Linked DNA regions of Homo sapiens: all the other regions are reported to be linked to region 1. The links are microRNA targets in miRTarBase. Many come from high-throughput screens and were not tested one by one. Region 1 holds a microRNA gene; each other region holds the end of a gene's coding sequence.
Evidence for each region. Region 1 holds the annotated microRNA hsa-miR-616-5p (ACUCAAAACCCUUCAGUGACUU, at 4,860-4,881, shown strand). A microRNA usually pairs through its seed, bases 2 to 8, with sites in the 3' UTR of a target mRNA and lowers its output. Matches are read on the target gene's strand: a 7mer-m8 pairs with bases 2 to 8, a 7mer-A1 pairs with bases 2 to 7 and ends in A, and an 8mer does both.

Region 2: the mRNA of ELAVL2 is a reported target of hsa-miR-616-5p. Seed matches in the 3' UTR shown: 7mer-A1 at 5,327-5,333 and 8mer at 5,428-5,435.
Region 3: the mRNA of AAK1 is a reported target of hsa-miR-616-5p. Seed matches in the 3' UTR shown: 7mer-A1 at 4,088-4,094, 7mer-A1 at 4,255-4,261, 7mer-A1 at 6,088-6,094 and 7mer-A1 at 7,043-7,049.

The regions. Positions count from the first base shown.
Region 1 is chr12:57,517,007-57,524,103 of GRCh38, reverse strand. It overlaps MIR616 (microRNA 616), which reads left to right and starts at 4,845; the gene lies at 4,845-4,941. It overlaps DDIT3 (DNA damage inducible transcript 3), which reads left to right and starts at 3,590. Exons shown (of 4, transcript NM_004083.6): 1 at 3,590-3,686; 2 at 6,351-6,398; 3 at 6,666-6,835; 4 at 6,924-7,097. The coding sequence starts at 6,698. LOC128125814 reads left to right here and starts at 3,624. Exons shown (of 2, transcript NM_001414991.1): 1 at 3,624-3,686; 2 at 6,351-6,392. The coding sequence starts at 3,624. The coding sequence ends at 6,392. MBD6 (methyl-CpG binding domain protein 6) reads right to left here and starts at 1,280. Exons shown (of 13, transcript NM_052897.4): 1 at 1,093-1,280; 2 at 12-75. RefSeq lists silencers at 1,049-1,448, 3,163-3,622 and enhancers at 1,709-1,848, 912-1,871, 1,969-2,038, 2,129-2,238, 1,872-2,832 and 4 more.
Region 2 is chr9:23,685,984-23,697,155 of GRCh38, reverse strand. It overlaps ELAVL2 (ELAV like RNA binding protein 2), which reads left to right. Exons shown (of 7, transcript NM_004432.5): 6 at 3,670-3,708; 7 at 4,272-7,052. The coding sequence ends at 4,599. Among named protein-coding and RNA genes, the nearest start is that of ELAVL2, 130 kb to the left of the region's middle.
Region 3 is chr2:69,468,217-69,479,388 of GRCh38, reverse strand. AAK1 (AP2 associated kinase 1) reads left to right here. Exons shown (of 22, transcript NM_014911.5): 20 at 328-438; 21 at 2,399-2,509; 22 at 3,426-11,172. The coding sequence ends at 3,520. Among named protein-coding and RNA genes, the nearest start is that of NFU1, 36 kb to the right of the region's middle.

The DNA.
Region 1 (7,097 bases):
ACCACAGCTACCTGAACATCTCTGCAAACATTGTGGGGTCCAGTCTAAAGCCGGGGCCACCAGCTTAGCCCACACCTGCAACGCAAGTAGAGAGATGGGACTGTCAGGAGTCTGCCCAACTCTAAAGAGCAGCACAGCCCAGCACCCTCTCAAAAGAAAGATCCTTAACAATGTGAGGCAAGCACCTATAAAGATCTCGGGGATCTGCTGGCTTAGTCTACAACCATCCTTTCCAAGCCCAGTCCCTAGGGACCAGAGGGTCAGAACCTCAGCTCCCTGGGACCAAGAAAGTCTAGCCCAATTCTTAGGCATATGAAGGGCAAGGCCTCCCTCCATTCGGAGTAGAAGACTTCAACCAGGAGTATGGGCACATTCCCATAATGCTAGGCCACTAGGAAGTTTCCCAGAGTGTCTGGCTCCTGTTGTTCTCTACCCAGGAAGATGATATAAAAAGTACAGATTGCCCCACAGGTCACCAGGCAATTGCCCAACTGCCCGCTGGGGTGGTACCAGCAGAACTCCCCCCATGCCTGCTCCATCAGACAATCGCTGATATAGTTCATTCGGGTCTTAAGAGGTGAGGATCACAGCTCAGTCTTCTCCCAGGATCCTGGGAAGCTCCTGATTTTCCCTCAAGCCTACGGCAAAGGGATTCAGAACCTCCTATTCCACTGGCTTCCGATTATCTCCAAGAGAGCCTGTCCTCCGATAGAAGGGGAAGCCCCTCCAACCTGCAGGTATCCTCCCCAGCCTCACCATTGCTCCCACCCCACACTGGCGGCTTCCAAACTTTCCCTCTCACAACAAGGCGCCCTGTCACCCAGACTGCTTCCCTCAGCTTGAGGAGGAGGGGAAGGCGCACGAAGTAGGAAGGAACTTGGGGAGAGGGCGGGCGGAGGGTGGGCGAAGCACTGAGGGGAGGGCGGTGAGGAAGGCAGAAGTCTGGCAGTGAGAGGGAGAAGCGGCGGGGGCAGGTGAGGGCGGGGGAGTGGGGATGGGGCCGGGGAAAGGGGCCGAGAGGACGCGGAGGGGGCAGAGGGTAGGGACGGGAGGGGGAGGGGCAGGGTGGGGGGGGCCGGGCCCCGCACTCACCGCGGCCCATGGTTCGGCCGGCCCCGCCCTGCGCAGTCGCGGCCCAGAGGGTGAGTGGGAGGGGGTGGGAGGAGGGTCGGTGGAGCCCGAGCCTCCGGTACGGCCCCGGCCGGTCCTAGCAGGAAGCGCCGCTGCCGCCGCCGCGGATCACCGAGCGGCCTCCCGCGCATGCGCCATGGGGGCCAGGGGCAGCCCTGGGGATTCCGTTCCCAGAAGGCACTGCGCAGGCTGCTGCCGCTGCCGCCGCCGCCGTCGCTGCCGCAGCCGCCGCCGCAGGAGCCGCCGCCTCCGCCGCTGCCCGGACGGGAGAGGGGCGGGGCCGGGCCCCCGCCCAGCGGACAGCGACGAGCCAACTGGAGGGGCTGCAGTGCGCATGCGGGAGCGCGCCTACCCCTCCCCCACAACCCCCCATTAATCCCCAAGAGAACAAACACCCCACGCGGCCCCCCCGCCCTCCGCGGAAGGATCTGCGCCTCTTCCCAGGCCACTGGTGGCCAATCCCAGCCCTCCTCAGGGAGGGGCCCCTTCCAAAGCCACAGTCTGTTGCGGGAACCAGGAATGCCAGGTCCGGGAGGGGCCAGGCCCCGAAAGATGAAAGTCGCGACTTGCCCTGCCCCGCCCCAAAGGCTTCCCGGGTAGTGTGCTGGGACTTGACCCGCCTCCCCAGGTCAACATGTCACAACACGACCTCAGCCTGTCAAGTCACATGACCTCTGCCTGTCACTGACAACCTGGTCTGTCTTTAGGCCAGGGGAGACCATCTGGTCCACCCTCCACACTACCCCCATTTTCAGAGAGGAAATGGAGGTGTGGAGCAGCGGAGCAGCCTAACCAAAGACCTGTCATTGCCACACCACTCCAGTCACAACCGGCCTTGTGACAGTTTCTACTTAAACTCTGGCTGCCCCCATGAGGGTATGACAGGATATGTAACAGGCCACCACATGGCCTCTGTTTTCAAGGCACAAGAAAAATACTTTGCATTCTGGGTGGTGCGTTTTACTTTTGGTCAAGTTGCCTCCAAGTTCATGGTTCTCATTTTACCTTCACAACTTTTATCTTTAATTTACAAACAAGGACGGTAAGATCCCTTGGCAAGTGATGGGGAGTTGAGTCTAAAATCGCGGCTCCGGTCTCCCCAGTCCAGGGCAGTCCTGCGCTGAAGTGCACTCACACGTCCCGGGATGAGACTCCGCTGTAAATCTCGACCCGAACACCTAGGAGGCAGGCCTGTGCCGCGCTCCTCACACAGGGAGTCACAGGACTTGCTGTCTGGTACAGCAAGAGAGGGTCTTGGAGAAAGCCATAGGAGTACCGTGGGGGAAAATAGGTGGCCAAACAGAATCGGGTCCACTGGGCAAAATACATGACTTCTGGCAGGCTGAGGGCTTACCAACTACAAGGTAAAAGTCAAGGGCGCTGTTCTGAGAGAAGCGGAAAATGACTACCAAGGGATTCCAGTACCTCGGCCCCTTTTGGGAGATTTACGGGGCTAGAACAGGAGACCACCCCCGTTTTTTTGTTTGTTTGTTTTGTTTTTTGTTTTTGGTGAAACGTAGTCTCGCTCTGTCACCCAGGCTGGAGTGCAGTGGCGCGATCTCGGTCACTGCAACATCCGCCTCCAGGGTTCAAGCGATTCTTCTGCCTCTGCCTCCAGAGTAGCTGGGATTACAGGCGCGCATCACCACACCCGGCTAATTTTTGTATTTTTAGTAGAGACGGGGTTTCACCATGTTGGTCAGGCTGATCTCGAACTCCTGACCTCAAGTGATCCGCTCTCCTCAGCCTCCCAAAGTGCTGGGATTACAGGCGTAAGCCACTGAGCCCGGCCAGGAGACCTCTTTAAGAAGACTCGAGATGTCGACAATCCCAGTGGATGGATACCAACTTTAAAAAGAAAAGTTCAAAAGGCCTATGTGCCCATTAGCTGGGAGGGGCCAAGAAATATGGGAGTCCCTTATAGTGGGGGTAAAACGGCGGGTAAAGCTAGGTGGGCGGAACAGCAGCTTCTGGGGGAGACAAGCGGCAAAGAGGCTCACGACCGACTAGGGGCGACCAAGGCTGATAGCCGTTGGGGCCGTTGGGCGCCGGGAGCTGGCGCCCCGCCCTCTCTCCTCTCCCCCACCCTCCGCACCTCCCACCACCCTCGGTGTCCCCTGCGCGTGCGCGTGCAGACACCGGTTGCCAAACATTGCATCATCCCCGCCCCCCTTTCCTCCCCTCCCCCCCCGCTACACTCCCCTCCGCGCGCGCGCATGACTCACCCACCTCCTCCGTGAAGCCTCGTGACCCAAAGCCACTTCCGGGTCCGACACTACGTCGACCCCCTAGCGAGAGGGAGCGACGGGGGCGGTGCCGCGGGGCTCCTGAGTGGCGGATGCGAGGGACGGGGCGGGGCCAATGCCGGCGTGCCACTTTCTGATTGGTAGGTTTTGGGGTCCCGCCCCTGAGAGGAGGGCAAGGCCATGGTAAAAGATTACAGCCAGGCGCTCCCGAGGTCAGAGACTTAAGTCTAAGGCACTGAGCGTATCATGTTAAAGATGAGCGGGTGGCAGCGACAGAGCCAAAATCAGAGCTGGAACCTGAGGAGAGAGGCGAGTACTGATTCCCATCTACCTTTTACCCTCCCGTCTCCTCAAAGTTGGGGCGTCCGCTCTTTAGGATCGGCCTCACTCCTCCACAGTGAAGTTAGGGACCGTCCGAGAGAGGAATGGGGAGAGTCCCTTATTCTGGGGTGGTGCTTACAAACCCCTATTGCTTCGGACGACGGCGTCTCTCCACCCCTGCCCGGAGCCGGAACACGGGCCCTGCTCTGTGCTGCTGGGCAAAGGGACCTCGGTTGCCCTTGGGAAATTCATTCTTTCCCGTAGCCAACTTCAGGCCTCATCGTTAGGCCTGTCCGCGGGGAGGCAGGTCAGCAGGACACACCCCCGCTCTAAGACTGGGTGACCATCGCTCAGGCCGTTTCCGCCGCTTCGCCACCAGCGGGCCTTCTCCCTACCCCACCCCCAATTCTGTCTCAGTCTCAGTGCCTCTGGTGTCAGCATGGCCACCTTGGTAGCTGGGGCTACTGGACCCTGCAGCGGATAGGGGAACCTTGAGGAGACACAAGCCTTTGGGAGGGGTGCCGATGGACAGGGAGTGGTGTGTTTTCCTTTTGCCGTAGAGGTCTCTGGGCCTCCTGCACAAGAGAGCAGCCTGGATCTCTTAAGTGTAGGAGGCCATTTGGGGTCTCCCCAGGGTATTGTCCTTCCCTCGGGATTAGTCCCTGCCTCTTTAACCCGGTCCTGTCTCCCAGCTAATCTCTGTGTAACCATTGCATCAGGCCAGCCCCGTTTGGCTCTGCAGCCTTCTGACCTGAGGCTCTACTGCTGATGAAAGCCAAGTCCCACACACTGGAAGGCAAGGGAGGGTTCCCCAGGGAGGACAGCCCTGCAGAGAAATACTTCGGGCAATATTGCATCTCTAGCCCCTAGGGATCAGCAGCTGCCACTCTGCTTCTGCCCCTTCCCTATAAGAGAGACTGGGGGGAGTTTATCCATTCATTCTTAACAAATACTTAATGAGGACCTACTGTGTGCCACACAGTTTGGGGCTCAGGGTACATCCTTGAGCAAGAGGAAAAAATCATCTCAGTGGGAGGCCTACAGTAAACAAAATATAAGTGCCACGGAGAAAGCTAAAGCAGAGAAAGGAATGGAGAATGTTCAGGATGGAGGTCAGAGTGTTACATCAGGTGGTCAGGAATTACCTTAGGTAATTCCTCCACTCAAAACCCTTCAGTGACTTCCATGACATGAAATAGGAAGTCATTGGAGGGTTTGAGCAGAGGAATGACCTGTTTTAAAAGGCTCACTCAGGCTGCTGTATGGTGAATAGAGTTGCGGAGGGGTGGCAAGAGAAGAAATGGGAAGACCTTCTGCAGTCAGAAAGTTTCTGCAGTAATTTAGAGATGGTAGTGAATTGATCTAGATTGGAAACAATGGAATTAGAAGTGTTTAGATTCTTCTAAGCAAAGGTTTTAAAAACTCATTTTTAAAGAATGAGTTAAGGGCCGGGCATGGTGGCTCACACCTGTAATCCCAGCACTTTGGGAGACCAGAGGTGGGTGGATCACCTGAGGTCAGGAGTTCAAGACCAGCCTGGCCAACATGGTGAAATCCCATCTTTACTAAAAATACAAAAATTAGCCGGGCATGGCAGTGCATGCCTGTAATCCCAGCTACTCCGGAGGCTGAAGCAGGAGAATCGCTTGAACCCAGCAGGCGGAGGTTGCAGTGAGCCGATTGCGCCACTGCCTTCCAGCCTGGGCAAAAAGAGTGAGACCCGTCTCAGAAAAAAAGGAATGAGTTAAAATTTGCTAGTACTTTGGATTGCAGGGTGTGAGAGAAGAGGAATGAAGGATGATACCAAGGTTTTTAGCTTAAGCAACTAGAGTTGTCATCTGAGATGGGGATGACCTTGGAAGGGGAAAATCAGCAAGAGTTTGCCTTTGCACATAGTCTTAGGTGCCTATTAGACATTGAAAAAGAAATGGCAAGTAGGCAGTAGACAGCAGAGTCTGAAGTTCTGGAAGAGGTCCAGACTGGAAATGTACATTTGGAGGATGTCAGCCCTGTGGGAATGGAGTTAGGAAAATGCTATGATTTGTTCCCTTCCCTGTAGTTTAGTTTTTACCCTGGCAGATTTGAGGCCTGCTTTGGATTTAGAGAAAGCTGAGTTGGCCAGGACTTTACTATTATGTAACCAGGACTACAAATGTCAGCAACTAAAAATAAAGAAAGTCAGGCCCTCTTCTGCCCTTCGAAATGGCTACAGGGACCAAGTATGCATACCCCACAAGACCAGAAGTAAGGAAGGACCAGTAGGAGGCTGGAGGTAAAAGAAAAATAAGGGCCCAGCACGGTAGCTCATGCCTATAATCCCAGCACTTTGGGAAGCGATGGATCACAAGGTTAAGAGATGGAGACCATCCTGGCCAACATAGTGAAACCCTATCTCTGCTAAAAACACAAAAATTAGCTGGGCGTGGTGGCACGCGCCTGTAGTCCCAGCTACTCGGGAGGCCGAGGCAGAAGAATCACTTGAACCGAGGAGGCAGAGGTTGCAGTGAGCCGAGATCGCACCACTGCACTTCAGCCTGGCAACAGAGCAAGACTTGGTCTCAAAAAAAAAAAAAGAAAGAAAAAAAGAAAAAGAAAAGTAAGTTGCCTCTCCCCCTTCCAAAAATGGCTGACATTTCTCTTTGTTGCCCACAGTGTTCAAGAAGGAAGTGTATCTTCATACATCACCACACCTGAAAGCAGGTAAACTTAACCTACCCTTTTCCAAAAATTTTAAACGGCAGGACAGTAAATATTTTAGATGTTAAAAGTCCTATAGTCTCTAGCGTGACTCTTCATCTCTGCCACTGTAGCACCAAAGCAGCCATAAACAATATGTAAATAAACAGATGTGGCTGTATTCCAGTACAACTTTACCTACAAAAACAGGCATCAGACCAGCTTGCCAACTTGTGGCATAGACTGTTTGCTACATGGAGCTTGTTCCAGCCACTCCCCATTATCCTGCAGATGTGCTTTTCCAGACTGATCCAACTGCAGAGATGGCAGCTGAGTCATTGCCTTTCTCCTTCGGGACACTGTCCAGCTGGGAGCTGGAAGCCTGGTATGAGGACCTGCAAGAGGTCCTGTCTTCAGATGAAAATGGGGGTACCTATGTTTCACCTCCTGGAAATGAAGAGGTAAGAATGTTAGCCCTAAAGCTAAAGGGGGATGTTACCTTTCCCTTCTCAACTAATATCTATGTTCCCTTTCCTCATTTCCTTGAAGGAAGAATCAAAAATCTTCACCACTCTTGACCCTGCTTCTCTGGCTTGGCTGACTGAGGAGGAGCCAGAACCAGCAGAGGTCACAAGCACCTCCCAGAGCCCTCACTCTCCAGATTCCAGTCAGAGCTCCCTGGCTCAGGAGGAAGAGGAGGAAGACCAAGGGAGAACCAGGAAA
Region 2 (11,172 bases), not on the chromosome of region 1:
GGTTATCCAGTCTAATCCTCCATATCTGCTTGCTGTGTTATTTGTAAAATGGATTTTGTTCAGGCTAAAGAGCAGGAGAGAGTGCCACTCGCCGCCTCTCCCCTTCGATGATTGCTCAGTCTTCCCCCAGGGAGGCAGGTGATACACAGGACTGAGAAGGTACTGGGTTCAGTGCATCTATTAAATATAAGTAAAAAATACTTTATTTTAAATACATATTTATTTTATATTTTATTTTAAATATATATTTAATGGATACTTTAATATTTACCTTCCATATGTACTACGTTATCATCCACACCCCTCCCTGAGATATTCTGGAGGCAGCTAGCTTGCTCTCCATTTAAAAATTGACTTCCATTTATAAATGACCATAAATAAAAGATGGCTGGGCGTGGTGGCTCACTCCTGTAATCCCAGCACTTTGGGAGGCCAAGGCGGGTGGATCACGAGGTCAGGAGATCGAGACCATCATGGCTAAATGGTGAAACCCCGTCTCTACTAAAAATACAAAAAAAATTAGCCGGACGTGGTGGTTGGGTGCCTGTAGTCCCAGCTACTCGAGAGGCTGGGGCCAGAGAATGGTGTGAACCCGGGAGGCAGAGTTTGCAGTGAGCCGAGATCACGCCACTGCACTCCAGCCTGGGTGACAGAGCGAGACTTCGTCTCAAAAATAAATAAATAAAATAAAAAGATGTCCTTGAGCAGTGGACAGACCCAGCAGACATATTTCTAGGGGCTTGTTGTAGTAGTCCTTGTGTTTGAGCTGCTGCACTATTTTCTCTTACAACTGCCTGTGTTACAGTTTGCCAACTGCTACTGGATTTGGAGTGAATGGTGCCCATGTAGAGCACCCGTTGCCTTTTCTGAGCTCCCATGGGAAACATGAATCTATGGCACCGAGAAAGCTAGGAAATACTTCTGGGCTCAGATGCATACAGTCAGGGGGCTTCAGCAGTGCCTGGGCACTGTTTTCTAGGTTCCATGCTTCTCCCTACACTCGTTGGTGATGGAGGAGAAGAAAGATTAGAGTGGATAACTTGGCTTAGTTCCAAAGGACCAATTTTTTTCTAAAATGAGAGAGAAGTGAAGGAATCAGTGAAGATCATGGTATCATGTAAAACTTCACAGATAGGGTAAAAAAGATGCCCTATCATAATTTGGAGGGTCCTCGGAGATCCTGTTATAAAAAATTCGAAACCTCCTGTCTGGGGATGCCAGAGATGGAAGTGAGGGAGATGGAGGATGGAAAACGAAATGTTTCTCCCTCACTGCATGTACAGTCATGCATCACATAACGTTTCAGTTAATCACATGTACGACCGTGGTACCATAATATAGTAGACTGCAAAAAATTCCTATTGTCTAGTGATATCATAGTCATCCTAATATTGTGCAATGCATTACCTTTTCTATGTTTAGATATGGTTAAATACACAATACTTAGCATTGTGTTAGAATTACCTACAGTATTCAGTACAGTGACATGTTATACAGGTTTGTAGACTGGGAGCCATAGCCCATACCATATAACTAGGTGTGTGGTAGGCTATTACCATCTAGGTTTGTATAAGTGCATTCTATGATCGTACAACAACGAGATCACCTAGTGACACATTTTCAGAACATATCCCCATTGTTAAAAAAGGCCTGACGGTAATTCACTTCAGGGGCAGATTTGGTTTCTACCCTGTTTGAAAATTCTGAAAACTCATCTGTCTCTGGGCCGTATGCTTGGTGTCCTGAGTGGGTGGTAGCAAAGCATGACCTGTCCCTACATGGATGCAATTAATGGGCATAGATGATGTAACTTTTGAGTGAATTGATAAGGTGCCTCTGCATTCTGGGTCTTCTAGCACTTTGGTTGGAGACCTCAGTATGCGGTTCTCTTCTACAGGTAGCATATGCCAAATGCATTCTGTGTTGATCATTCCAGCAATTTGATAAAATTGTATTGTTACTTTATGATTGGTGGTGCTAATATGTGTTTGTCTTTATTGCTGGTAGTTGTGATCCTTATTCTTGACTATAAAGGCATGGCATCTTTGACTGTACTCACCTCTGCAAAAAATAAAACCCCACATCTTTTTACTTATGTGCAGACAAGGTCATCCAACCAATCCTCTTACTAGTTTTCATTCTGGACTAAGTTGACCATAATTTTGGTAACCTCATTGTCTTTATTTGGTCATCACATATTTATTATAAACTATCAGTGACCCTGGCTTGTGCTCAGTGGTGCAATGAGAGGGTGGTGGGTCAAGGCACGCACACACACACACGCACCACGCACACAGAGACACACTCACACACGAAGATCTTTTGTCATTGTGATCTGTTCTGTTTCCTTACACTTTGCATAAGCTCAGTTCTTCTCATCTTTACAAAACAGAATTTTCAGTGGAGACTGAGGGCAGGGATGTGGGAGGCTATATATTTCCCCATTCTGAAAGACCAGATGAGATGTGTTTTGGCTTTTACAAAACTAAAAGGTGTTGGCTTTTGCATGTATACTTTAGCGTGACTTGATGCCACAGGTTAGGTGATAAGGCTGAGACTTTTCAAACTTACCTTTCACGGGTGTTAAAGAAAAAATTCTCACCCCCACCCCCAGTCCCAGAGGGACAACCCTGGGATGTCTTTGGAGAGTGTTGAGCATTGTAGCAGTTGAGGGTGGTTGTGGACTATGTATTAAGTTATGCCTCCTCCTCAGAACACATAATTAGTTGGTAAGCACTGTGGAAATTTGGGACATTAGAGTGGTGTTTTGAAACTGATAAAGAAGAGTCAAATGCTGTAAAACTAATATTTGATATAGGAAAAATGTAGAAGGTTTTAAAGAGTACTTACACCTCCACCCCCACCCCTATTTACTTTCTATAAACATTTTAAGTGAGGCTCAGATTGGCTTGTTTTGTTTCCTACCTGGCCTTTGAAAACTGAGTAGGACGACACTTCCTGTAGCGTAATTTGAATACAGCATCCAGATCAGGATCTGAACTCTTGGCTTTGTTGCACACTGGAGTGATGGATTTTTCTTTTTTCCTTCTCTAGACCTCAGCTGAGCACATTTGAGAAATGGGAGGGTTAGCTTGGGTTGTCCATAAGGTTTTTTCTACCTGTAATTATACCTCCTTGATTCTAAAAGATGAAAGCCCTTCAAAGTTGGGAAATGAAAGGAAAATGTATAGAATTCTGTAACCTGCAGAGTTTGAGTATCAATGCCATAATTTACTAGCCCTGTGGTCTTGAGCAAGCCACTTAAACCCTGTGTGCCTTAGGTATCTGCAGGCACCAACAGAGTTGTGAAAATCAAAAGTAGTATAAAGAACATGTAGCTATACATTGATCACTTTGAAGCTACCTGATGAGAACCCTAAAGTTAACTATCCCAGAGCTTTCGCACTTCCTCTCTGAAAGGTATCCTCAGATGACCGTCACTGTGTCCCATGTACTGACCCTTGTAGAGAGAAACCATTCATTGGAAGAACTGTCCTGTGGCAGTCGGTGCCCATTAGCTTAAAAACGTAAAAAGACCCAGCATTCTGAGTCTTCACATATAATCAGTGTACAGATATCCCCTCGGAAGATGGCAGTAATGAGCCCAACTTTCTTGAACATCAAGGGGAAAAATTAAAAACTGAAGTTTGCTAAATGTGTGTTTTGCAGGTTGGACAATCTGCTCAATATGGCTTATGGAGTAAAGAGGTAATGATAGAGGTTCATGATACTCATAATCCCTTTCCACAGTTGATTGGTTTCTTTGATTTTGGGAGTGCTATTCACACCCCTCATAAGTTTTTGTTGGGTTTTATTTTGCATGTGCAACCTAATGAAAAGCTGCTCTTTGAAGCACAATTGACTCAAGAAATTTTTATACCACCGGATGCCACCTGGTCTTTTAAAAACCCATCATTTGTTTCGTATTGCGTTACGACGTTACAGCATGTTTACGTATGTGTTGATCCCTTCCCCTGCCAATCCTGCTTAATTCATGAAGCCAGTTCTAAATATATTTCTTTGCTATTGTGGATGATATTCAGTACAGTGAATAATGGTCATTTCATAACTTATTAATATCTCAGTAGTCTAGCATGTCACTGCAAAGCCACACACAGACCTTGGTCAAAACATGAAATAGTTTATATATTTGTTGGGGGAGGAGAGTTACTAAAATTCTTGGGGATGGAAAAGGTATACGTTCATTGCTATAACCAACCTCTGTTTTTATTTTTTGTGTGTATGTGTGTATTTCCTATTCTGTTTAGCAGGTTTTCTCCAATGACCATTGACGGAATGACCAGTTTGGCTGGAATTAATATCCCTGGGCACCCTGGAACAGGGTGGTGTATATTTGTGTACAACCTGGCTCCTGACGCAGATGAGAGTATCCTGTGGCAAATGTTTGGGCCTTTTGGAGCTGTCACCAATGTGAAGGTCATCCGTGACTTTAACACCAATAAATGCAAAGGTTTTGGATTTGTGACTATGACAAACTATGATGAGGCTGCCATGGCGATAGCTAGCCTCAATGGATACCGTCTGGGAGACAGAGTACTGCAGGTCTCCTTTAAGACAAACAAAACGCACAAAGCCTAATGAGCTCTTGTCCTCAGTCCATTTATATATGAAAACTATACAACAAAGGCAAGTTAAGAGAAACTTTATACATTAGTAAATGTCTTTGTAAGTCAGTGTTGAGATGGGGATAAAATGACTACTTAGCATCCTAAGAAATATGTGAGATTTTTTATTGCTAGTATTTGAATTAAAACTTCTTAAATATCTTTTATGTTTGAATATGGACAAGAGGTACAGGGTTTTTACCTGTCACATTGCATTCTATTGCCTTCTTTGAAGAAGGTGGACCTTTTAAAGTGTTTCAGCTAAGGGAAGACATTTCTTTTCTTTTTACATAACTGCCTTGAACCTGTGAGTAAATATTGAGGCTTTGTGTTGTAATTCTTCAGTTGGTTGTGTCTTTTTTTTCCCCCCTTTTTTTCCTTTTTCTGATTAGCTTTGTGTTTGGTTTACATTTAAAGCATTGCTGTTATGTCTGTTTAAGAAAAGTATTTTGAAGTTTACATTTTTATTTATGAAGTTTAAAACAGTATTTATTTTGTAATTATGATTTGGGTTGGGGAAGGGGGGGCTACATTATAAACGCTTATTGTAAGAATACTGGAGAACTTTTCGTAAAGCAGTACCTTGCCAAAGAGATAAGAGCCTCTTTGATGTGGGTTTAAAAAAAGCATCTATTTTTATAAAAAAGAAAATTTGGAGAAACTTTTTACTGGTCCTGGAACAAATATTTTGACTTGAATACTTTGAGAAATCTCTTCATATGACACCTAGTGAGCTTTTAAAATTTACCAGGAAATTTGCAGCGGTTGGAAAATTTAGAAAGATTTATGGTGTAGAAAATACTTTTGAGATCTTTGTATGAAAGGAGTAGAATCAATGGGGGGAAACACTGCTGGTTTCATTTTTGTAATCACCAGTGGAGCGTCTGATCATCCTGGTTATTATGTGATAGGTGGCTCACATTGATTTGTGATTTTGAAACAAATAAAAAAAATTTACAAAAGAATATATAAGAGCAGGCAAGAAATTTAAATTACCGAGAGATGGGGGAAAAAATCTGTTCTTCCTAAAGAAATCCCTTCAGATAGAGCTCATGGTGTTTAGTGATGTACTTGCAGTATTGTTTGAAGAATTGTTTTGTCTTAAGGAAAAAAGACGTTGCACATGATTTGTACTGCAGCAAATCAGCAAAAGTGATCTGAGTTGGATATATTTGAAGGTATTTTGAAAGTTACGTTCAAGGCTAACACCTGAGCTTTGTGTAATGTAAATAAGACCTTGTGTTTATGAACCTTTCAGCTAATTTAATTTTTTTTCCCTTACATGCCAAGTGATGTTCAGGTTTTGAATGTTTTTGTATCAGTTTTTTCCTTTGTAAATGGCATTAACATTGTTACTTGAGGTCTTGCTTAATCACTTTTGTTGTCCTGAGGACTTGAATTTACAGTGCATCAGATTTGTTGCAAATTTTGTCTGTAGATAGTCTAGCTTCAGCTGTTTATGGTGATGCTACATTTTGGTTTATAAATATGTTTGTGGTATAAAAAAATGAGTATAACCATAGGTTTTGAACAAATTTCCTTACATTTTTCATACAAAAATCATAAATATCTGTATGCTATTGAAATTTAACTTTGTATGATGCTTAAAAACCACTATTTGGGGAAATAATAAAATAAGTCTTTACCATGTATGAAAGAAATTTTAAAAAATACAAAATATTTTCTGATTAGCATCTAGCTTATAATAAATTTTCAAAAAAGCTGAAGGCAAAAATGCCTTCATCAGGATGCACTGAGAACTATATAGTTACGTCCTGCTTTTTGTATAAACTGAGATGCTCACATGCTTCCCCTTAGAACAGGCAATGTGCTATGCATAACATAGTTGTACATTATCTTTGCGGTTGCTTTGAGTTTTATTTTTTATTATTTAAAATTGTAGTTATAAAATTTTTCAGTATAGTACAGTACATATACTGTGAGGCGCGTGCTAAAGTGAATAAGCGAGTTTTCATGCTGACCCACTCAATGCTATTCAGAAATCAATTGGCTTAGCACTTTCTCATATCCTTAGGTGCATTTAGATTGCCAGAGTTAACCTTCTGCGTTTAAAAAAAGAAAAACACTAAAAAATAAAATACATGTATATACTTAAAAAAAAATAATAAGGTTTCCCTCAAGGGAAAACAGCAGCTACATGCTTCTTTCCTATACTACTGTAGCAAACCAAGGCATTGATGAGAGGGCATGCAAATTGTGCTTCACTTTACAGTGTTTTATCAGAGCACTTAATAAAATGTAAGGCTGGTATTTATTTGAAGTTGTACAGTATGACTTAATTCACATCTGTTGGAATAGAAAATATATTCTGTTGAGTATTTAAGAGGCTGTACATGTTTTCTTTTGTGTTTGGATTCTTTGTACTTTTTCATGTTCAGTACATCAATAAACAAAGTTGAAGGGAAAGAACAGTGTGGTGAGTAGGTCTTTATACACAATTCGGGGGCACCTGTGCTCAGTCTAATAAGCAGACTTGCTTTCTTGAATTAAAAGAAGTTCCCTGAGAGTTTTAGTGGAAAGCAGTGTTACCTCTTAGAATTCCAAAAGGCAAGTTAATTGAAGTAGAACGTGCAGAAAATTTTTGGACTGAATGACACCTTCTGATTAGTTTTCAAATACTGCTAAATGAGTAATTCTCACAGGAGAACATACTCTCATCTGCTAGTTGTAAAGTTTGGGAAATCGGATATCGACACCATTTTATGGCTGGGATTCAACCTTCAGCTTTTTGCACAGATAATCACCCTTACACGTCAGTTAAAAACCAAACAGGAGGAAAGTAGCTTACTCGGCTTCCACTGGCAATCTTTAATTCCCTCATGGGATTAAGTGTTGCTGTGTGAAAGTTACTTTTTTGCACAAATGCTAGATTGTCAAGAGATTGTTCCCTAAAATCAGAAATTCAGTTTCTGTTAAGTTAGTGTTGTTGTGTGTCACACACGTTACAAACCATGAACTCTGCCAACCCCGTATTTCGCATAGAAGTTCAGTTCTTGTATACACCCTTAACAGATCTGTGAAGGTTAAAAGGATTTCCTGCTGATCTTTTGTGAAAGGATTCTACTTCTATAGAACTTCAGACAAATGAGTATAATAATGAAACACTTTTTTTTTAAACAAAGTATACTAAATGACTTATTTTAATTTTATTGTATCTGTCGGCTTTTTTGGTAAAAGCCATTCTAAAAGTAATTGTCTTGAATTCACAACCTACTAGTCAAGAGCGTAGTTGAGTGACAAGACACTTCCTTTTTTCAACATGCAATTAGTCTTAAATCTCCATACTCCCTCTTCTTATTATATGAATTTAATACTCTAATTTTGTGATGTTGGAACATCCTCCCCTCACCTCTCTCCTCTTGCATGTTTTATCGGTATTTTGATTGGTTTGCATGTCAGCAGTTCTTTTATAATTGAGCAGATAGTGGAAAAATTCTCAGCAAAGGAAGTTGGTATAGTAACTACTGGTATATTTGAGGAGAAATTTCGTCTTTCTCCCTTTTTTTTTTTTTTTTTTTTAACCTGTGCTTGGAAATTATCTGAACAATATTGAAATTCAGTTTTAGAGCGGCCTACGTGAAATTCTTAATGTTAACATCATTTTACATTATTATAATCTGAGAAAAAAATGTTAGCAATTTAACCATTCTGTTTTTTTAAGATAAACAGATTGCAAGATTTCTACTTTTTATAAGAGGTTTACAAATGAATTGTAGTGGAAACTGACAACTGCTTGCTTACAGCGTTACCTAGAACAAAGAAAATGTGTTTTTTAATAAGTTTGTTGAAATTGTAGTACCTAGGCCTATTAACCTACTTATGGAGCAATAGGCCATATACCTTTTATTGGGTAGAAGAAAAAAAGAGGGGCATTTAGCTTTTTTATGCCTCTATTATAGTGGAACCTCAAACAGTGGGACCAAACAAATACTGATAAAATCGTGACAGTTTATTATTATTGGATGAAGAGCATTTATAGTCTGTCATTGCAGTTAATAGCCCATATTTTTCTACTTCTAGTAGTAGTCACACTCCTCCTCTGAAAATTTCCAAAAGTAGGCCCATCTCCCTTCAAGTTGCAAAGATTGAATATTTACACCACTATTACAGGCATCCTGTGGATATAGGATGGACCTTATTGAAATTAACCTTTCTAGAATTCTGGCTCATAAAAATAAAGATTTTTTGGTTGGTCAGCACATAGTTAACTATCTACCATACTGTGCCCTGGGTCTATAAAAGTGAGCAAAATACTGCTCTTACCTTCTTGGATACCACCTGGAAGGGAGGACTAACAAGCCAGCAGGTTACGACTGCAACGTCCTAAGTGCTATGAGAGCCCAGGAGCAGCTGTCAAGCTACTTTGCTGTAGTTTTTATAAATGCAGTTACAACTCACAAAAGTAAAACCTGTTCTACTCCTCTTACAGATGCTTCTTTTCCTTTCTTGGACTAATTGTTGGCTGATTGTTTAATTTTCAGTCTGACAGTGGTATCACTTAGTTTTGCAAATCTTTGAACGCTGCCATGCTCAAGTTGTCCAGATCCTCTCTTTAAAAAACGCAAAGCTACTAATAAACGATAAGACACTGTCGATCTGAATAACTGGATGGCGTGAGGTATCTGGCTGGATAGTCTTGCTCTCTCTAAACATAAACTATGGAGTGACGATTTTGAATGTACTAATATAGTAAAGTACCCTGGATATTATAAGTATGCTTGATGGGTTTTACCCTACCTTAAGACTCACCACTATCTTAGGATCTTAAACTTAGTATTAACATTACTTTTGGTTTAAGTAACTAAAGATATGGGTGAAGACTACGTTAATACTCAGCCTCAAAATCACTCATAGGTGTTTTTTCAAATAAATACCTTATAGCAACCTTATAAATACAAGAAAACAGTCTATTTCTGCAGACATAAATGTGTGGAAGACATACGCCTTTCTGCTCTCCTGGAGCCTGTCATGCTCTAGAAGATTACATCTGTAAGTAACTACAGTAAAGTGTTGTACACAAAGTGCATTAAAAGAGGAGGAAGTGGGGAGACTCCTAATGTTGCATGTAGTCGTGGAGAAGGTTGTTCCTGGGATGGGAATGCTGAGCCACACAGAAGTGGCAGCAGTTGAGCTGCATCAGTAAGGGTAGGTGGGATTTTAAAAGATACCCGGGGAGGCAATTCAAGAAGACATCCCTGGGATCAAAGACATAGGCAAGCCTCTACCTCTATTATTTCTGGAGAATTAATAAGTCATATTCAGTCTAGACTTAGGAGTTTGTGCCCATGACTAGTTAAGTCTAAAAAATACCTAAACAGCAAAACTTTTTTTCTTGCCCATTTCTACTGCAACACTAAAAATTACTTGCCATGATAGGTTATGTGTGGTTTGGGGAGTTCCGTAGAACTTGGTAGGGACATTCCTCTCTTTTAAAAGAGACATTTATTTGGGGTGTGTCAGGCAGTCAGTGTATGTGAAAAGATCAAACAAAAATAGAATCTCTCCAGCAACAGAATACTGATCTTTTTCTCCCACTATTATACCTAAAAAACTCTATTGTTCAGATGATAAAAGTTATCATTTTTTAGGATTTATACTATTTCTAGTGTTACAGTACCTGATTCATTCCTTTCTTGGATATGAATTTTACACTCTTCTTACCTGTATCACTCAAGCATCACCTTCATCGAAGGTGAGGGAAAAATTATAAAATTCAAATACTTCTCAGATATATGCAAGATGAGGTTTTAGTTTGATAGGATGCCCTTTTTTTTTTTTTTTTTTTTTTTTGGTGTTTGGAAACTCAATAACCATTTCAATGATGAACCTTGCTGGGTTTTTTTAATCCTGTAAGGCCCTTTGACCTACAGGTTGTTGATAGCCACATGCTACCTCTAATGCTGATTTTCATGGTGTACTCCTTTTGAGAATGCTCCTCGTCCTGTTGAATGCATGCTTCAGAAACAACCCGCCCATCTGCGGATTTTCTTGCAGACATGATGAGACCAGCAGCCATTCTCAGGGTGACTCACTCTTTGGAATGAAACACAGTTGGCAAGGTAGTTTTGTTATCTGGATTGCGGGTTTTTAATTGCAGTGTGGCAAAGGTGCAGCAGCTGGCCATGAGAATGGGGGAGGGAGGTCATGACCCATAAATCTATGTAGGCATCCAAAAGATGCAGTGCTTCATTCCTTGGACCTTGAAGAAAAAAAGCAGCCCATCAGGAAGTACCATTGAGCACCTTGTTGAAAGAAAATCCCCGTACTTTTACATCCATGTTGTAGATCATCTATTTCTTTAAAAATGTTTTGTTATGCCTTAGGTGTAGTAGTAATTATAAGAAATAATGCAGATTTTCACACCAAGAAAAAAAAAACCTGGGTGACTATCAGAAAGGTTAAGCAGATATTACTAGAAATGCTGAAGCAGAAATTGCAGTTGTTACTTTATGAAATGTTCTTTAGTAGAAATTTCATCTCTTGAGAATGGTTGCTGCAGTGTGTTTTCTGTATGTAGAGAACTATA
Region 3 (11,172 bases), not on the chromosome of region 1:
TTAATGTTAAGAGGAATCTAGAAAGACATGTTTCTATAGATGAAAATCCAGAAGCCTCCACACATTTCTTTTGGTTTTCATTCTCCCACTTTGGCTTGTATGTGTAACGTGTAAATGCAGTAACTTAAAAGCTAAGATCTAATCTCATGATACAGATGAAAATCCAGAAGGCTCCACACATTTCTTTTGGTTTTTATTCTCCCGCTTTGGCTTTTATGTGTAACGTGTAAATGCAGTAACTTAAAAGCTAAGATCTAATCTCATGATATTGTTGTGTGTGCCACTTAATGCCATCACTGACCTGGGATGCTGTTAATCTGGACTCAGATTCTCTCACCGGGGAAGATTCCCTGCTTGATTGCTCTCTGCTCTCTAACCCTACTACTGACCTTCTGGAAGAGTTTGCCCCCACAGCAATCTCTGCTCCAGTCCATAAAGGTAAATGCTTTCTTCTTCTCAGGCCCACATGTGTCCTTAGAGGGGAAAGAACTAAACAACTTTTGAAAGTTTTTCTTATCAAAAGTCTTTACTAGTGAAGTTTTAAAACTACCTCCTTGTATGGAAAACTTGAGTATCTCCTAGATACTGTGTTATAATACCTCTCAGTGAGAATATTTACTAAGACTTAGACGACCGGCCAGTTGTGGTAGCTCAGGCCTGCAATCCCAGCACTTTGGGAGGCTGAGGTGGGAGGATCACTTGAGCCTAGGAATTTGAGACCAGCCTGGACAACATACGGAGTCTCAGTCTCTACAAAAAAATTTTTTAATTAGCCAGCCATGGCAGCATGCACCGGTGGTACCAGCTTCTCGGGAGACTGAGGTGGGATGATTGCTTGAGGCCCGGAGGGCAAAGCTGCAGTGAGCCATGATCGCACCACTGCACTCCAGCCTGGGCAGCAGAGCAAGACTCTGTCTAAAAAAACAAAAAAAATAGCAGACAGGTACTAAAAATAAATAAAATTAAATCTGAAAAAAGCCCTAGACAACAGATTGGTGAAAGTATTGCTTTCTGGCAAGAACATAGAATGCAGATATTCCATGTTACCTTTAAGAGCTAGATACCTTTGCAGTCAATTCAAGTAGATGGTTGAAGTGACTATCTACTGCCTGCCTATAATGATCATATGATGCTTGTTGGCCTTAGAATGTAAAATGGTTTTATCATATCTGATTCAAAGTTATTGCATAGTGATGACTGCAATAAAGAAATAAGCATCTTTCCTCAAAAGTCAGTCCTTGCAAGGTTGAACTTGTAGAAGTTTTGAATTTTAGTTCACCTTCAAGTCATGATTGGTTACTGGATTTCTCTTTCTAATCTACTATTTTCATTTTTCAGTCTTGGGTTAATAGTGGTCTGAAATCCTGGACAGAGGTAGCTTGAATCAGATTCTATTCAATGAGCAGTTTGTGACAGTGTCAGGCTCAATGCCTGGCTTACTTTGTTACTGAACTTTCTGTGATTGGGTAGTGAAAGTAGTCTTCTGGAAAGAGAAAATGTGTAGAAAAGAAAGAGCTTAAGTCCCTTCAGGAGAAAATTCAAGAAGGAAGCCTCCCCAGAATGACTAAAAATAATCACCTCTGTGGTTTGCAATGGTAATAGCTGAGTTTTTGTTTTTACCCGTGATGACATTAAAATGATTATGTTTTTATAGATTATGTAGAGGGAAGTTACCTATTTAGACAGTGATGTCTGGCAGGAGTATGTCAGCAGCAATGTAGAATTACAGAGAAGCATCATTTGCAAAATAAGTGCTCAGCCAGCACTTGCTTGCTGTTAGGGTAGCTTTAATTAGAATGGAGAAGACTATTCTAACAAACTTCTACTTGAGGCCTCAGTGCGTGTGATCTTGTGCCTCAGCGTTCCCTGAGGCTTCTGAGTTGTTTCAGTGTCTTTTTTTCCCAGTCACAGTGCAGTGAGTCCTTCCAGCAGTATTTTGTTTGCATTATATACAGTGGTTACTTCTTAAAGAGCCACCAATTCTCTTCCTCCTCCCCTGCCCTGCCCCCAAGCCCCGGTTTTGAGTTTTTCAAATATTGTTTGGCCTCTGTTCCCTCAGTGAAGACAAGTGACTTATTCCTATGCCTTTGTGGATTAGTGACAATGAAGAGATACCTCACAATAATTATAATTAATGTCTTATAAATAATAGAATTCTTCCAAGAACCCTTTTCCCTAATCATTATAAAAGTCAACATGGCCAACTCTAAAGCATTTTTTTCTATATCTCTGTATTTTCCAGTTTTGCTATTTTTATTTCAACTCAGAAAGATAAATCCTTTCACCTTTGAAAATAACAGGGCTGTACAGTTGAGATCTTTGTGCCTCTTTCACATTCTCTCATTTGCTAATCTCTGCCTCTGTTGTTTCTGCTTGTGTACTTGCATTCTGTATTAAGCTGCAGAAGATAGTAATCTCATCTCAGGTTTTGATGTCCCTGAGGGCTCGGACAAGGTGGCTGAAGATGAGTTTGACCCTATTCCTGTATTGATAACCAAAAACCCACAAGGTAAGAAAAAGGATGGGGAAAAGAGAAGAGCTTGGCCTCAGTTCTCTTCAAAATAGTCATGCACCTAATCTGCAAGGGGGAAGAAAAGCATCAACATTTAATGAAGGACATTGGGTGTAATGAGAATCATTGTAGGCTGGACCAATAGAGATAGATAGAGATAGGTATCTTTAAAGTTTGACCGTGGTGTTTATTTAGAGAGAAGTCTTTAACAGTTGGCCAAAAGTTAGTTTTTACCATGAAGCCAAAAGCAAAATGATCTTTAGTCAGTGGAAACCTGAAGGTATATATCAAAAGCACATCACATTTTTTATCATGATTAGAATAATCCATAATAAATATTTTTCCCAAAGAGATTAACAGCTGTGTTTTGGTATCATTCACATCTTTTTGACATTAATGGAGCATCCTTTTTCAACTTTGATGGAGGAAAATCATGTGAACATGCCATAAAACACTAAATTACCATGGGACCATCTATTTATTTTTTAAAGCATGTTCTTATTGCAGTATCTTAATAACTAGTTTCTCCCCAAAGCAAAAATTATTGATTTTTACTTTATCAAAGGGAGATGGCTTGATATTATCAGGAAGTTGGTATATAGCCAGCAATTCTCAACCAAAAAAAGTATTGATTTGAAAATAGTGCCCTCTTTGCAAGATGTCCTACCTATACTGTGGTGTGCACAGAGTGCCTGAGCTTTTGGTGGGAGGTGGTGGACAGCTAACTTACATGTTTCAAAATCAACGTGTAAGGGTTTGCAAATGTAAAATATTGCTTCTCTAGGGTTTGGTTTTTTTGGTTTTTTTTTGTTTTGGTTTTGGTTTTGGTTTGGTTTTTCTTCTTTGCTTGCTCTGCACATCTAAACCTTAACCCTCTATGTTTTGTACTGAATTCCTATCTCTCCACTTCCAGGTGGGCACTCTAGAAACAGCAGTGGGAGCTCTGAGTCCAGTCTTCCCAACCTAGCCAGGTCTTTACTGCTGGTGGATCAGCTCATAGACCTGTAGCCGTGACCCAGTAGCAGATGCAGTTCTGTAACCTTCATACCGTAAAATACATTTTCATTACGGAGTTATGAAAAAAATGATTTTTTTAAAAAAATCTGCAAATAAGGGGCCCTCCAGCCCTTTTCTCCTACCCCTTGCCTTCTCCTGTAGAAATGATAAGGAAAGAAAATCACTTTGGCCCTCCAGATATTCCTTGGCCAGTTCCTCCTTGTTAGTTTGCTGTGTTTTCTCATTACCCTTCTTCAATAGCATTATCTTAAATCAAGCACTAGATGCCATGAGCTTCACCTCTGCTGGAATCAACTCCACCAAAAGCTTAACTGTAACTGAAACTAGTGAATTGACACTTTTGTCTCGTTCTTGCTAGGAATGGCCTCCCAGATCAATTCTCCCAACCCCCGTCTCCTTTGGCCAGATGCTGATGAATGTATTTCCCTGTTTTTGCTTTTTATCCTGATGCATTATCATGAGGACATGGCTACTTCAGTTGGTCTTAACTCTAGGCAGTAGCCTGGAGATGGGTGTGTGGTTTAAGAAAGGGTAAAACTTACTGACTGGTAGTATATATTTGAGAAGAGAAATTGAGCCCAGCTCTAGCCAACCAACTTTGACCTTGTTTGATCATAGACTTAGCCAAGGGATTTTACACCCCATGCAACCTGCCCAGCATTCGTCCAGCTTTCTGGCTTCCATTGAACCGTGATTTCTCAGATCTGGAGACGTGACTGCAAGTATTTGAGATCCTTGGATACAATGTGTACGTTATATAAATCCCAAGTATTGCCATTCCTTTTCATGTTAACTGTTCCAAGTGGGATCTCAGAATTAGACCAAAACAAGACGGTGGTAATATGATACCTTTTATTAGAAGACTTTTCACTGGGGCGGGGGTGGGGGGAGGATGGGGAGGGGAAGGAATTGTAGCAGAAACAGATGTATTTTTCTTGTGATTTTTATTTTGAATCAAATATTGTAAATTGTGTATAAATGAAGATGCTGAATAGTTCTGTTTCCACTTGGCATTTCAAGTCTGATATCAGGTGTCTGTACAGGGTTTTGATTTCTTTCCCTTGTATAACTACACAACAATCCTACAGTGTAACATATGGAATCATTTTGAATAGACTTGTGTGCTATAAGCTTTCAGCAGGTCCTCTGTCTCTAGAATAAGCATGTTGTTTATTTTCAGATAATCAGAAATAAGTGTGCTGACAAGCTGGACACAATCTGGGTGTGCCCAGCTTACCTTTCTTTCTGATGTTTAAATTGAAGGCTGCAGCCAATGGAATATGTTCAGCTGGTTTTCCTTGGCTTCCTAGATTAAAAAAAAATAATAAAGCATAGTTCTTTATTAACTTTAGGATATTGTTCATAAAATAAATAAAGGCCCCTGCACTAACATGACAACATGCCTCATGGTCACCCTCTCTATATGTACTTACTCATTAAAGTGTATTTTATTTCCTTATGTGGAAAGCACTTTTATAAAATCACCCTTTTGAAAAGAAGTGGGCACAGAGAACCCCACTCCTGTTCTTTTCCTCTAGTGCCATTGTCCATCATCAAAAGGGAAACTCTTAGTTAATCAGATCTGTACAAATAAAATTCCAAGTCCATTTGCTTGTTTTGCTATCTAGTACTTTTGTTTCTTCTTCCTCACATTTGCACTTTATGGGGGAAAAAAGTTTAACAGCAACAACAGCCTATAAAACACTGCATTCTGGAGGGCAAGGTTTGACCCTAGGAATGTGCGAGTAGCCTTTGAAAGGCATTGGAGGAAAAGTCTGAATCTTCCAGCCTTCCTTCTGTCTTTAAATACTTCCCGTGCTGGCTGAAACAAGATGAGCTAGGTAAAGGCCTCTAGTTGAATAACAGACCATTTCCAAAACTGAGAGAGGCACAAGCTTCCTGCCGAGGATTAAAAAGCAAAAGATATCCACGAAGGGCTCTCTGTGGTTGGATAGCAGTGAAAATAGGACTTGGTTTACCCCTTTATGGACAGGAAAATTGCTGCAGGTCAGAATTGTATTCTCTTTCCTGGACATAGAAAGAATGTATAAATTAATGAAGGAAATGTTTATTTTTAAATAAGAATAATGTTTGAGTTCTATGTTTTCATATTTGATTTTTTTCGTATATACATGTTAGAAATATAATGAAATATCTAGTTTCTCAATTTAATTGAAACTATGAAGAGTACAGTTTAGAAATTAGGTATCTCTAAATTGTTCTTTTCATATATTACCCATAATTACATTGAAATATATTATCTAGTCATTTGGCTCAGTAAAGCTTAATGGAGGCAGTTAATGAAAATGAGCAGACTAGAAGCCAGAGACGGCAGTAGAAGCCTAAGGGAGATAATGACAAGAAATTGTCTTGGGCTTATTTAGAGTAAGGCCTCCTCAAAGGGGAGAACTATTTTTCTGTTAAGGAACACATATGAGTGCTTTGGTAAACGGAGCCTTCCTTGGTTTAGAGCATCATCCCTGAGCTGAAAGAGTTTATTTGAGTTGAGCATAGTGTCCTGGTACCTGTGGAATCATAGCCTGAGCTACAAAGGGACCTTTGAGACCATCCTCTAGTCCACCATCCTCTTCATTTTACAGGTGTGGGACCTGAGCTGGATTGAACAGGGTCGGGGGAGAAGAGGCCTGGGCAGGACAGGCCACCTGGGATCTCATCCTGGCCCTTGCCAGCCACTGGCTGAGTGACCTTCAGCAGGCACTTCACCTCTCAGAGTTGCTGTTCCTTAGAGTTATACGATGGGTTTGGACTAGATGGTCTTTAAGATTATAGAAGTATAGGGTCCTAAGTATATATTATTATATTGAGAAGGGCTATGAAGGATTTATATAATCCTGATGTTCTTCAGTTATCTTCTGTAGTTCCTGCTATTACGGTAGCAGTGTTTACATTTTAAAGAATTATAATGGGCTTTTACTAACTTGCTCTTTCTTGATTATCTGAATAGAAGCCTAAATCATAATCTTAGAGATTTTCCTTTTTAAGTATTACAGAAACACATGCGTGGACACACACCTACCTATTCTAATAAAATGGTATCAGAAGATTTCTTTTTAAATGTATAATCAGGCATCTACCAGTTTAAAACGGGCAAATACTATAAGCATATGTTTCTGATTTGCTTTTATTCCAGCTATGTAAGAGGAGTAACTATAGCAGAAAACATGACAAATTGATTTTTCCCTTTACAACATTCAAATGAGTCCCAATGTTTTCAAAAATACATACCTCAGAGGAGATAAGGCTTAAGTGGACACTTCTAAGTATGATTATAATTATTATAATTAATGATTTCTTTAGCAGACATATCAGAATTTTGACATCTAATTAAGTGTTGTTCCCCTCAATGTCATCTAGTTTTACTTAAGAAGTTAATACTTATTCTAATGATGCTGCCATCCTTAAAGTTATTTTTGAAACTCCTCTCCTTAGAAATAATATCAAGGAAGGTAATAAGGTATAAGAAAATCAGCTATATTATTTAATTAGTATCACTTTGAGAAAGCACCTGGAAGTATATTCTTTCTTTGTCTACTTTTTCTACTACTCTTGGTTCTGAGTAACATTTAGCCATTTCCAGAAAGCAAATTCAACCCTGTAAGATGAAGAGTGGTTACTGTTGAAGACAGTAAAAAGGATAATCCACAAAAAATTCTCAGAGAGGACCTTATAATAGAAAGTGAACATGATTAAGACTTAATTTCTGTAATTTTCTGAATAAGGAAACTTCTGTGATTCCTTAGTCTTTAGAATGGTTTAAAACATTGAAAGATATGGGTATTAAAACACCTCTGAAAGAAGTTGTCACTTTGTTCAGTGTTATTTGATATTGGACTTCGCTCTTCCTGAATTAGAATTACACAACTTGGATTGCTAATACTTGTGGAAAAACAAACCCAAGAAACGAACTACTTTCTCAAGATGTAATATTTGTTTTATTATTAATACTTTTGGTTGTTTTGATTACTTATTTCCTACTCTCCTGACAGATAATTGATCAACCAATATAACCTTCCCCAGGTTAGGAACAGTTCTGCCTTCAGCAGTGCTGTGGGAATGAAGGGATCTTTGGGGCTGACAGCCTATGATGTGGAGGGATCTGCACTCAGCTAAATAAATACATGCTATAGATACCTTGGGCCAAAATAAAGTCTCTCTTGATAAGGTTTTTCTGTGATTTCCCAGAGTCCTTAACCTTCTCTGTCTGCAAGATTATCAGGCTCCCATAGCCACTAACTTTGAGCTTTGGGATGAAAATGACAGGATTGCCCAGTGTGCCGGGTTAAGCAAATTAGAGGCTGCCTGGCAGAACAGAAAAACTATCACATGAATATTTAGAATGGAAGCTTTCCTGAAACACTCCAGATACTGCAAAGCTATCTTTATTCCTCTCTAAAGGCTATAATTTTATCAACACAAAGTCAGCCTTTTCTTTTTCCACATTAGTAATGTTTCTGAAGTTGGATGTGCTTAGATTTCTTAAATCAGAATGAGTGCTAGGAAATCTATAACAAGAAACCTCTTTTGCTTCTCCCAGATTTCCTTTCACTAATACGGGATAGGGAGGCTCCTTGGGTAATGCTAACCTATGCAAAGAAGTTACCAAATGGTGGTAGTTGCTAGAATTAAAGACACGTTCTTGGTTCACACTTTGATGTAGTGACCTGAATTTACTCTTTTCCTGTGAGTATTCTACTCTGCCCTATTGCACTCTCCTTTGTCATGTGGATGTGTGTTTATCATAGGTCTTTAACGCGTCCTTCCCAAGAAGACAAAGCATACAGTTGTACATGAAGATATCTTATGCAGTAAAAACGTGAAATTTGAACATTGCTGCACAAGTATTGTATAAAAAAAAGTCTGTAAAGAACTTTCTTATGTAAACATACAGGGGAATAAAGACTTTTATCTGTTCAAATGGGAGCATGATGTTTAGAGATGTAAATAACTTAAAATAAGTTGCTCTTTTCCTGAGCTGAAAACCCACTTTTTTGCAGAAAGGATTTAATCACAGTATTGAGTGACAATAAGTACCTGGGCACAAGAAAAGTATAGCTACACACTGAGGACATATTAATGAATCATGGCTACCTGAGAGAGTAAAACCCCTGTTTTAGTCTCAAGGAGAATAAGACGCCTGCCAGCCTACACTGGATATGACCAGACTCAGGGTTGTAAAATGGAGCGCAGGTTTGCAGCTTCCCTCCTCTAACTTAATCCCTAATATACCCAGGCCAACTTAATTAAACATTTTGTGTTGGCAAGAATAATTTTATCCCCAGTGAGAAAACTCACTCATTTAATTGCCTCATTGGCCTGAGAGGCACAGCTGGCCATTTTTGGCTTCCATGAGGTCCCTCATTTCCCAGTCGTGGGTTTTAATGCAGCTACCTAATATATGGTGGAACCAAATGCTTAATTTTGTTATGTGAGCTAGAAGGTCATGGTAATTATTAGTTTGATGTACGTCTCTTGATTTCCCCAGTTTGGTTCTAAAATTTTACGTTTCAATTGCTGCTGCATTTCCAAGTTCTTGTGAAGGGATATTTTGCTTTCTGTTTACTAACTATATGTGAGAAGGCTTCTTCTCAATGCTCCAAGTCTTCGTTTTCTGTTTTTGGCAAGAATCATATCTTTGATACTCCCTGTAACCGTTCTTTCAGTTTTTGGTATGAGGAAAAGTAAACTTCTGGTGTTGTGTGATGTATTTCATTAAGGAATATCCAGCCTGACATTTAAGTCTTCAGATTTTAATTCTGTAGGGAGCATTCTGATGGCCCTCACTATGTCAATCAGATGGAGTTTCCAGGGGAAACCCATCCTAAATGATTCAGCACTTTGGGTTGCTTTGGAAGTGAATAGGGAGCTGGTGAGGATAGTTGCCAAGTTGTCAGGTATTTTAGGAACTCCTTCTCTTCCCTGAAGCATGTGAGTTCTTGCTGAAATCTACATAATTTGGAGCCTCAAAATAGACTAATATGGAGTTACCCATATTGAAAGTGTCAACGTGCCTAACCTGGCACACAGTCCTACATCAGAGCAAGAAAAAGAAGTATGTTTTGACTTCTTGCTTAATTTTATGTGTGAAACCAAAATAAAAAGAGGCATGATCCAGTTTGAGGGAATTATAACAAAACCCTACGTTAGGCTCTATGATAAGTAAGACCCTGTGCAGACTATGAAGCCAGGCCCTGGGCTTTAGCCCCTGAGGTACAACAGGCAGTGTTTACTGAGCTCTATGGCCACAGGGTATCTGCTATGACGTGCCATTGGTTACCAAAGGAACTGGGTCAAGGCATGTGGTTAGGTTAGTATAAATCCTTCAATGCTAGTAAAGAGACTGCTTCAAACACGTTTTCTTGTTGACACAATGCTACCTTCATATAAAGGAACTGTTCACCCTGAAAACACATTTTCCCTGTAAGAACACATTCACATACTCAAAAAAAGACTTTTATCTGCCAACAAGATTTAATGGTTACCTTCTGTTTCTAGTATATTTGGAATTTATCCTTCTCTCGACTACCTTGTTTCTGGTGCTGCCACCACCAGAATTCCTTAAGGGAATGTGGAGGTCTGGGCTTCCCCCATATTCTCTGGCATTTCTTTGCCCTTCAGAGTGCCAGGCCTGGAGAGTTGCAAAGTGTGGTTGCTCTCCGCCTCAGCCACACTGTACCTCCTCTAACAAGAATAGAAAGGTTAAGGGACTTGGCCTTCTCAGGACAACCCTTTAAATGTACTTTTCCATTCCTACAAAGCCTGTTGATGCTGAAAGAAAGATAGGAAATAGCTCTTGTCCTTGTTTTGAAGGACAGGAGACTAATTTTCCCTTCAAACTTGATATTCTGGTGTTTTTGTGACTGTTTTTGTAAATTATTCAAAGTTGTTGGAATTTTAAGTCTGATTTTCCCAGTACTCATCATGAAGGTCATAGAATATGCTCTGAGTTGGAAGGTTTTCCAAATGGGTTCTCGACCAAAAACCCACTTTTTAACAAATAATTTTGATGGGTTAGACATGTTCTTCCATCCTCTCCAACCCTGAATATGGGCACATACACACACCCCTTGGTACTTCCTAGTTCTCAAAATGTAATCTAGCACTTCAGGCATCCAAAGTGCCCCTGGTTCAATAGATAGCTGCTTTTTTGCCAGTCTCTGTGCACAAATTGTTTTAACTGAATTCAGTTTAAATTTCCAAAAAACACTGACTCTGTTCAAACTAGTGTTCATTGGATTATTGACCTGTATGATGCCAGAGTTGGTCACTGGCTTGACTAAGTTTTCCATTTTTTTTCCCTAAGAGATATTTTGCTCTCCTGCAGAACAAGCTTAATAACATCAACTTTCAAGGTAGTTTTGGAAGATGAGAAATTGTGCTTTTGTTTTGGCAACTGAAAACTTTGTCCAACTGATACTATGTGAGGAAGGTGGTTCAAGGAGTTTTAGGGCCCTCTTGTCCTTCTTTAAGGCTCTGCAAACCTTATTTTGGAAAACTTATTTTTCTCCCTTTTATTTGAATTTCCTCCCAGAAATTATCATCTTGGTATCACTGAGACAAATCTAATATCAATTTACTTGCCTGAGAAATTAGGATTATGTCTGTCCACATAAATCGCAAGGAAG